Regions from separate parts of the Homo sapiens genome. Here region 2 is linked to region 1. Evidence: fine-mapped expression QTL. Tissue or cell type: whole blood. Region 1 holds a variant in brackets; the other region holds the start of a gene. All regions are shown on one strand. Distances are from middle to middle.

The links. PIP is the estimated chance that this variant, and not a neighbour inherited with it, causes the effect.
Region 2: it holds the start of SOX4, and the variant in region 1 is fine-mapped to the expression of SOX4 in whole blood (TOPMed, PIP above 0.99).

The regions. Positions count from the first base shown.
Region 1 is chr6:21,853,910-21,859,059 of GRCh38, forward strand. The region is part of intron 4 of CASC15 (cancer susceptibility 15); the gene reads left to right. Among named protein-coding and RNA genes, the nearest start is that of CASC15, 190 kb to the left of the region's middle. RefSeq lists a silencer at 2,509-2,803. The variant G/A (reference allele first, on the strand shown) is at 2,102.
Region 2 is chr6:21,590,760-21,595,909 of GRCh38, forward strand. SOX4 (SRY-box transcription factor 4) reads left to right here and starts at 2,992. Exons shown (of 1, transcript NM_003107.3): 1 at 2,992-5,150. The coding sequence starts at 3,776. RefSeq lists silencers at 3,603-3,782, 4,553-4,642, 4,693-4,742.

The DNA.
Region 1 (5,150 bases):
TAATAGCCAAAAGGTAGAACCAACCCAGAAGTCCATCCATAGATGAATGGATAAACAAAATGTTGTATATACACACAATGGGAGATTATTCAGCTTTAAAAGATGGAAATTATGACACATGCTACAACATGGATGGATCTGAGGACACTGTGCTAACTCAGATAAGCCAGACACAGAGGGACAGATATGGTATGATCTCAAAAATATGAAATATTTCGAATATGCAAATTCATAGAAACGGAAAGTAGCTTAGAGCTTACCTGGAGCAGGGGTGGAGGAATGGAGTTACTGTTTAATGGGTACAGAGTTTGTTTTGCAAATTCAAGAGTTCTGTGGCAGGCTGCTGGTGATAGAAAAACAATGTGAACAAATGTGCTTAATGCCACTGAATTGTATACTTAAAAATGGCTAAAATATGGCGTGTGCCTGTAATCCTATCTACTAGGGAGGCTGAGGCAGGAGAATTGCTTGAACCTGGGAGGTGGAGGTTGCATGAGCCGAGATTGTGCCACCACACTATAGTGGGAGACTGTGTCTCAAAAAAAAAAAAAAAGGCTGAAATGGTAAATTTTATGTTATATATATATATATATATATATATATATATATACACACACACACACACACCCACCCACAATTAAATTTTTTTTTTTTTTTTGAGATGGAGTCTCACTCTGTCACCAGGCTGGAGTGCAGTGGCATGATCTCAGCTCACTGCTACCTCCGCCTCCCGGGTTCAAGCGATTCTCCTGCCTCAGCCTCCTGAGTAGCTGGGACTACAGGCGCCCACCACCACGCCTGGCTAATTTTTGTATTTTTAGTAGAGACGGGGTTTCACCATGTTGGTCAGGCTGGTCTCGAACTCCTGACCTCATGATCTGCCCGCTTAGGCCTCCCAAAGTGCTGGGATTACAGGCGTGAGCCACTGCGCCCGGCACACAATTAAAATTTTAAAGAAATCTTCAGGGAAAGGGAGTACTACTAATACTAAGTTTTTAGAACTTACAAGTTATATAATACAAATTGGTCATTTGAGCTGATTTTCAATATGCTGACACATGCAATATAAATTGCAAATATGTATGTCACTACCACAACATCTAAAAGAAGTCAAAGATGTACACAATGTTTATGACAAATAAAACTATTGCATGTAATGTCAGAAAAATATCCCCCAAAAAAAACCCAATTAGATTTGCTAATTTGTGGTATTTGTGTGTCTCCTGTACAGACATTTTCTCATTTGGATTCCTGACACTTGGTAAATAAAATTACTATTATTGTTCTCTTGTTTCTTTGAATTTGGAATTCCTGGAACACAGGAAAATTTGATACACGTCCTAAAAGAAAAAGAGGAGAACAAACTGAGTGCTACTTAATATGGGGGCAGCACAGTGGCTCACACCAATAATTCCAGTGCTTTGGGAGGCTGAGGCTGGAGGATTGCTTGAGGCCAGGAGTTCCAGACCGGCCTGGGCAACATAGCAAGATCCCATCTCTACCAAAAAAATAAAAATTAGCCAGGGTGGTGGCATGAGCCTGTAGTTCTAGCTACTTAAGTAGGTTGAGGCGGGAGGATTGCTTGAGCCCAGGAGTTTGAGGCTGCAGTGAGCTATGATTTCTTCACTGCACTCTAGTCTAGGTGACAGAGTGAGACCCTGTCTCTAAAAAAAGAAAAATATAAGTAAATAAAGTGAGTATGCATGTCTGAAATTTGTTTACCTGAATGTTCTGATTTAGTGGGTCTGGCGTGGGGCCTGAGAGTCTGCTGTGCTCACAAGCTTCACCTGAATCCCTACTTCGGAGGTCCTGGGAAGGCTTTGGATGGTTCTGCTTTCATCACTGCTAGTTTAGGATCCACGCTAAATCACGCTGGTTACTTACCATGAATCAGTTTTCTGGCTTTCGTGATATTGTTGCTGCTGTCATCTCAGTCTTCTTGTCCTTGTAGATTTCTGCATTCTGAGAAACTCCTTTAGTTTTATTTTAGTGGAGTATTTTGATAGGGCGAAATGAAGGGAACTGAGGTGGCACTCATTTTTAAAAGGAAGTTCCCAATTCTGTTTTCACTTTTTTTCTGGCTAAGTGCTCATTGTTGGGG[G/A]AGGGGAGAACACTGACTAATTTAGCAGAATCAGCAGCATGTATCAGCATTCCCCTCTGACCTCAAGTTTATTTGAATCAATGTTGATTGAGCGCTAAGTATGTGCTGGGCATTGTGCTTATCCTTGATGGTTGGTAGATATGGTCCCTGCTATAATGAAACTAGTGCTATATGCTTTAACCCAAAAAAGGAGGGTGGGGCACACAGATGACACAATCTTGACGGAGCATGTTCTTACAGTCTGTTGTATGTGACAGTTGTGAAAGCTGCTTCCTTAGACCCCACCCCCACTGTCTCACTCGGCAATTTCAGTCTCATCCCCAGATTGTTCTCCTTTATCTGTTTTTATGATTTCTACCCCTTTGCTATCCCGGTTGAAGTGGAAAGTTTTAAGCCATAGAATATGCTTGTTTCTGTGAAGGGTCTTTCTAAATTGTGTCCATGCCACTACATCATTCTTACTTCAGACAGAATAATTGCTTTCTAATTTGGCAGAGTTAGGGGAAATATAAACATGCCCTTATTAGCATTGTGTGGAAGAAGAATTCTGACATGGCCCCCATGATTCACTCCCAGACCCGTGTTGCATACACACCCTGAGTAATCCCTGGAACTATGTCTGTGATGAATTTACTCCCTTGACTAGTTATGTTCTATGGTATAATTGACCTTAAGATCTGGAGAATATCCAGGTGAGTCTGACTTAATCACACCAGCCCTTTAAAAGCAGAGAGTTTTGTCTTGCTGCTTGAGGAAAGAGAAGCTGGAGATTCTTAGCATGAGGAAGATTCAAATGCACCTTTGTGAGCTGAAGATGGAGGGGGCTGTGTGGCAAGGAATGCCGGCAGCCCCAAGGAGCTGACAGCCAGCAAGGAAGTGGGGATGTCAGTCCTACAACTGCAAGGAACTGGATTCTATTAATGACAAGAATGAGCTTTTAAGGGGCTTTTTCCTCTAGAGGCTTTAGATGAGAACTCAGTCCAACACCTAGATTTCAGCCTTGTGACACACTGAGCAGAGAACCCAGTCATGATGGGCTGGGCTTCTGACTTACGAAACTGTGAGCTAGTAGATGCCTGTTGCCTAAGCCACTAAGTTTGTGGTAATTTGTTATGCACCAATAAAAAACTAATATACATATTAGTGTGCAAATGCATTTGAAAAAGAGTCTACAAGTACATTCGAAGAAGACTGTAGAAGGCTTGCCTGTGAAAAACCAAGCTAATGCTGCTTAGCCAGCTGGGCAAAGAAAGTCTAGCTACCTTACACATAATAGGAATGTAAAATGTCATCGATACATAGGAAGTATCAAACCATGGAAAGGGCATAGATTTAGAGAGAAGAAATATGAGCAAGTCTTGGCTCTCTTACTTCCTAGCCAGGGGAGGCCATTCCTCTGAATCTCACCTATAAAATGAAGGGGTTGACCAGATGCATCTCATCACAATGTAACCCCTGGTTTTATTTAGCAAGCGATGTACTCATTTCCATAACTTTCTGTGGTTTAGCCTAGCCCTGACCCACTGGGTATAGGATAAGGGTTGTTGTCTGATGGATGTCATTTTTGGGTAGTTTTTTTAAAAGCAGCTTAAAATTTTATGGGTTTTTAAGGATCAGTCCAAAATATTCCTGTCTCAGTACAATAATCTGATATTTGCATCAAAAAGCTACCGCAAAATATATTACTTGGGGCTGAGGCAGGTGGATCACTTGAGGTCAGGAGTTTGTGACCCCAGCCTGGCCAACATGGTGAAACCCCGTCTCCGTTAAAATTACTAAAATGCCGGCGTGGTGGCTCACGCCTATAATCCTAGCACTTTGGGAGGCTGAGGCAGGCAGATTACCTGAGGTCAGGAATTCAAGACCAGCCTGGCCAACATGGTGAAACCCCATCTCTACTAAAAAAAAAAAAAATACAAAAAATTAGCCTGGTGCAGTGGCGTGCGCCTGTAATCACAGCTACTCGGGAGGCTGAGGCAGGAGAATTGCTTGAACCCAGGAGGCAGAGGTTGCAGCGAGCCGAGATCGTGTCACTGCATTCCAGCCTGGACGACAAGAGCGAAACTGCATCTCAAAAACAAAAAACAAAAAACATGCACCTAGAAATTGATCTTTAAAAATCTGTTTTTGAAACTCAGGGTGATTCTGACTAGAAGCATTTCTCTGCCTGGAACACCTGCTCATCAGAACTCATTCTTAGTGTGCTTCCACAGTGTTTTGGGGGTGGGCACATAGCCCATTCTTGTGCATCACTGTGCGTTGAGTCTGGTCTGTTGAACTTAGAATTATGTTTAAAAATCTGTCTGTGTGTCTAAGTACTGGTGTTTTACAAGAAGTGGTTGCATGGAGCATCTGTGTTGCTAGTCTTTTTCCTAGGAAATGATTCTTCTCTGAGCTTAAGGATCTTGTTCACACTGCAAAATAAAAATCTGTAGAAAATTAAGGACACTCAAGTTATAATATTTCAGGGATATAATGATATTTCAATGGGAAAATGCTAATTATGGGGAGCTTGCTTTCCCCCAACACCTGGAGCTTCTTAACCTGCTACCAACTAGCTGCTGATTTTCATAAATAGGACTGTACGAGGGGAAAAAATCCCTCATCAACTCAGCCACCAGGAAGATGCTGGAAAGTGTCTGTCAGTTGTTTAAAAGGGAGAAAAGGAATACCTCAGCCGCCTCCCAGGATGCGTGAAGCCTCCAGGAATATCAGCCAACCTGGGCTTTCCGCATGGAAAACAAAGCTGCCTGAATGGGTATGTTTTAAGACTATAACTTCTGAGTTGCTCTCCTGGATATTTTCAAACACATCTTAAAAAGGCAGGTGGACTTAGTGGCTCACACCTGTAATTTCAACACTTTGGGAGGCTGAGGTGGGAGGATCGCTTGAAGCTAGGAGTTCGAGGTGCGGTGAACTATGATTGTGCCTCAGCACTCCAGCCTGGGCGACAGAGTGAGATCCTGATTCTAAAAAAAACAAAAACCAAAAAAAGGCCAGAGGCGGAAATGCCTCACTGTTGTGGTTCATGATTCCATCACAGACATTA
Region 2 (5,150 bases), 260 kb before region 1:
ATGTTTTCTTACATTCTAAGAGAACTAACCCATTAGAACAGATCTATTTCAGAAGTCTAGGCACTTGTGTAATATATAAATATATATGCAGTAATTATAAAGTCAATGGAAGTTACTGATACCATATTTCATCAAGTCTAAGAGGAAATTTTTCTTTTCATTTCAACTCTTCCTGAAATAAGGAGGCATCCTACATCTAGGGGGATATCACAGTTTCATTGGCAGCTTTCTTCCTTGGTGGAATGTAATATAATGGTGTGTCTTAAAATTTGTTGGATTTGTTGAAATACAGAAAATACATGTAACAAAAGAATGAGGCCAGTGGCTGTGTTTTAGTACACCCTTTAAAAAATCCATGTGTTTTAAGCAGAAACATATATGACTGCTTTAACTTCCACTCTTCCCTATCATATTCGATGATGGAAGCATAAATGACTGAGAAATATAATCAATAATGTTGATACTCAACTTGACTGAATTATCAAACTAGCTACACCCTCAAATCATTAGTTAGTACAAATTCAAAAATAAATATTCTTTTTTATTCTAGTGAAAATATTGATCTTATAGATAATAGCCCTCTTAAAATAATTTTTTTTTGTCAGATTGGTAACATTTAAGGATGTGTTTCTATGCACACCAGAGAAAATGTAGTATATAACACAGCAACACTGTTATGCAAAAAAGGTGCCTGTGTGTTTTTGGTTTGGGTTTTTCTTTTTTTAAGGATTTGTTTCTCCTTTTTTAAAAAAATTATGTAATACAAGTAGCTAATCGTCAAAAATTATTTGCTTTTACCCACAAAAACAGTTTTGCTTGTGGTTGATCCTTACAGATCCAGTCAGATGGCTACATAGGGTGTTCTTTCCAGTAAAATTCTAAGTCTGACAACCTGGGCCTATTGCCAGCCTACATACTTTAAAAGTTTGACAAGATACATAGAAATTTACTACCCAGCACTAGTTTAATCTGAATCAAAAGCCGACTTAATTATTTTGGATTGACTTTACCTAACCACTTATGGTTAGCCTGAAGAATATTAGTTTCCTATTATAGTGTTAAGGAAAGCTGATTTTTACTACAATTCTAATTTTCAGACACTGGAAAACAAGTAATTTCTGTAGCCAACGTTTATTTTGAATACCTTGGCATCCTTTCTTTGCCACATTCTTCTTAGTATTCTTCATGGAGTTCCTTTCTTTTAAAATCAATGGAATGGCAGGGTTGCCACTATTGTCCTTCTATGGTTCACATCAATGATCTGTGATTACTTTTTTTTTTTTTTTGAGATAGTCACACGCTATCACCCACACTGGAGTGCAGTGGCTCAATCTTAGCTCACTGCAACCTCCTGGGTTCAAGCAATTCTCCCGCCTTAGCTTCTCGAGTAGCTGGAATTACAGGCGCATGCATCCCTGCCCAGCTAATTTTTTAATTTTTTAATTTTTAGTAGAGACAGGGTTTCACCATGTTGACCAGGCTGGTCTCGAACTCCTGACCTGAAGTGATCCACCCACCTTAGCCTCCCAAAGTGCTGGGATTACAGGCGTGAGCCACCGCGTCCTGCCTGTTATTACTTTTTTACATAAGTGGCTATTCTGTTTTAGCCTCTTGAACAACATGCAGCTTTTACTAGGAGTGTGTCTGGCATTTGAATTAGAAAGGAAGATATTAGTATTCATTGAGGGCTTACAATACATCAGGTGCTTCATAGTCACAAATTCATTGAACCCTCACAACAACCCTCTATAAAGTAGCTCCTAGTGTTCCCATATAATAGATGAGGAAAACTGAGACTTGGCCACATCCCCATAGTTACAAACCATTAAGAAGGATTAGCAGCCAGGTCTACTATGAATCCGGAGGCCCCATTCTCTTCTGCTACCAGTTATCACCTCCTTCTACAGTTTCTCTTTGCCTTGGTTTTTCAGTTCCCTTCGATTCAAGTAACAAGAGGAAATATATAAGAAGGAAAGGAGGAAGATGGCTTTGGGAGGAGGAGAGGGAAGAGAGTGAAGCAATCTTTAATTTTGAAAACAGGGAAAACAAATATTTAGAAAGTAAAACCGATTTCCATCCTTTACATGCCATTATACATCCTATACAAAACTCTGGAAATCTGCCTATTGAGGTAATTACGGAGCACTACCTAATGTGTTTCAAGGGAAAGCTCCCCTGTTTGGGCTATGCAGGATTTACAGGGAGTTTAAATCATTAAATAACCATAGTTGACCCTTGCTTGGTTAAGAGAGTAAGCAATTATTGCAAAGTCCTCTTCCCTGCCTTCCACAAACAGCACAAAAACGGTTCTGAAGGGATTTACACAATACATCAACATCTGTGCTGTACCTAGAGTTGTTAAAATAATTGTGATGACAGGTGTCTAGGTACCACTTTCTTAATGGTTTTCAATATCCATTGATTTATTGTTTTGTGGCTTTCTCTTCCCCTTTACAGCTTTGGCTTTAAGAAAGAGCTGGGGAACAGATTTTGCACCAGAGGCTGATTCTTTATTCCAATGCTGAAAAGAACTAATAAAAATAATCACTTGGCTTTTAAGCAGAAAGCTTCCATTTACAGTATTTCACCCTTACCCCGCCCCGTTCCAAGCCCCTTGTTATCTAACATAATGGTTAGAATACATTTCCGTCTCTCCCCTTAATAATTTCATGCATTAACATCCTCTTCACACACTATACACACACGCACGCGCGCACACACACGCGCGCGCACACACACAGCAAAAGGAAAAAAGAGGCAGCAGAAATCTCAGCTGTACTTCTAGCCCTTTTAAAAAGTTTGCTCTGTAAATTGGAATGAGGTCAGATTTGGAGCTTCTCATTGCACGCGGAGATTATTATTGCATCGGGTTCCAAGCCAATGGGAAGCCCGGGGGAGGGGTTTGGCATGAGGAAGCGTTGGTTACAGCAGCTGATTGGCTGCAGCCAAGACTGTGAAAGGATAAAGAGGCGCGAGGCGGAATTGGGGTCTGCTCTAAGCTGCAGCAAGAGAAACTGTGTGTGAGGGGAAGAGGCCTGTTTCGCTGTCGGGTCTCTAGTTCTTGCACGCTCTTTAAGAGTCTGCACTGGAGGAACTCCTGCCATTACCAGCTCCCTTCTTGCAGAAGGGAGGGGGAAACATACATTTATTCATGCCAGTCTGTTGCATGCAGGCTTTTTGGCTTCCTACCTTGCAACAAAATAATTGCACCAACTCCTTAGTGCCGATTCCGCCCACAGAGAGTCCTGGAGCCACAGTCTTTTTTGCTTTGCATTGTAGGAGAGGGACTAAGTGCTAGAGACTATGTCGCTTTCCTGAGCTACCGAGAGCGCTCGTGAACTGGAATCAACTGCTTCAGGGAAAAAGAAAAAAAAAAAAAAAAGACTTGCCTGGGAGGCCGCGAGAAACTTGCATTGGAAGCTTCAGCAACCAGCATTCGAGAAACTCCTCTCTACTTTAGCACGGTCTCCAGACTCAGCCGAGAGACAGCAAACTGCAGCGCGGTGAGAGAGCGAGAGAGAGGGAGAGAGAGACTCTCCAGCCTGGGAACTATAACTCCTCTGCGAGAGGCGGAGAACTCCTTCCCCAAATCTTTTGGGGACTTTTCTCTCTTTACCCACCTCCGCCCCTGCGAGGAGTTGAGGGGCCAGTTCGGCCGCCGCGCGCGTCTTCCCGTTCGGCGTGTGCTTGGCCCGGGGAACCGGGAGGGCCCGGCGATCGCGCGGCGGCCGCCGCGAGGGTGTGAGCGCGCGTGGGCGCCCGCCGAGCCGAGGCCATGGTGCAGCAAACCAACAATGCCGAGAACACGGAAGCGCTGCTGGCCGGCGAGAGCTCGGACTCGGGCGCCGGCCTCGAGCTGGGAATCGCCTCCTCCCCCACGCCCGGCTCCACCGCCTCCACGGGCGGCAAGGCCGACGACCCGAGCTGGTGCAAGACCCCGAGTGGGCACATCAAGCGACCCATGAACGCCTTCATGGTGTGGTCGCAGATCGAGCGGCGCAAGATCATGGAGCAGTCGCCCGACATGCACAACGCCGAGATCTCCAAGCGGCTGGGCAAACGCTGGAAGCTGCTCAAAGACAGCGACAAGATCCCTTTCATTCGAGAGGCGGAGCGGCTGCGCCTCAAGCACATGGCTGACTACCCCGACTACAAGTACCGGCCCAGGAAGAAGGTGAAGTCCGGCAACGCCAACTCCAGCTCCTCGGCCGCCGCCTCCTCCAAGCCGGGGGAGAAGGGAGACAAGGTCGGTGGCAGTGGCGGGGGCGGCCATGGGGGCGGCGGCGGCGGCGGGAGCAGCAACGCGGGGGGAGGAGGCGGCGGTGCGAGTGGCGGCGGCGCCAACTCCAAACCGGCGCAGAAAAAGAGCTGCGGCTCCAAAGTGGCGGGCGGCGCGGGCGGTGGGGTTAGCAAACCGCACGCCAAGCTCATCCTGGCAGGCGGCGGCGGCGGCGGGAAAGCAGCGGCTGCCGCCGCCGCCTCCTTCGCCGCCGAACAGGCGGGGGCCGCCGCCCTGCTGCCCCTGGGCGCCGCCGCCGACCACCACTCGCTGTACAAGGCGCGGACTCCCAGCGCCTCGGCCTCCGCCTCCTCGGCAGCCTCGGCCTCCGCAGCGCTCGCGGCCCCGGGCAAGCACCTGGCGGAGAAGAAGGTGAAGCGCGTCTACCTGTTCGGCGGCCTGGGCACGTCGTCGTCGCCCGTGGGCGGCGTGGGCGCGGGAGCCGACCCCAGCGACCCCCTGGGCCTGTACGAGGAGGAGGGCGCGGGCTGCTCGCCCGACGCGCCCAGCCTGAGCGGCCGCAGCAGCGCCGCCTCGTCCCCCGCCGCCGGCCGCTCGCCCGCCGACCACCGCGGCTACGCCAGCCTGCGCGCCGCCTCGCCCGCCCCGTCCAGCGCGCCCTCGCACGCGTCCTCCTCGGCCTCGTCCCACTCCTCCTCTTCCTCCTCCTCGGGCTCCTCGTCCTCCGACGACGAGTTCGAAGACGACCTGCTCGACCTGAACCCCAGCTCAAACTTTGAGAGCATGTCCCTGGGCAGCTTCAGTTCGTCGTCGGCGCTCGACCGGGACCTGGATTTTAACTTCGAGCCCGGCTCCGGCTCGCACTTCGAGTTCCCGGACTACTGCACGCCCGAGGTGAGCGAGATGATCT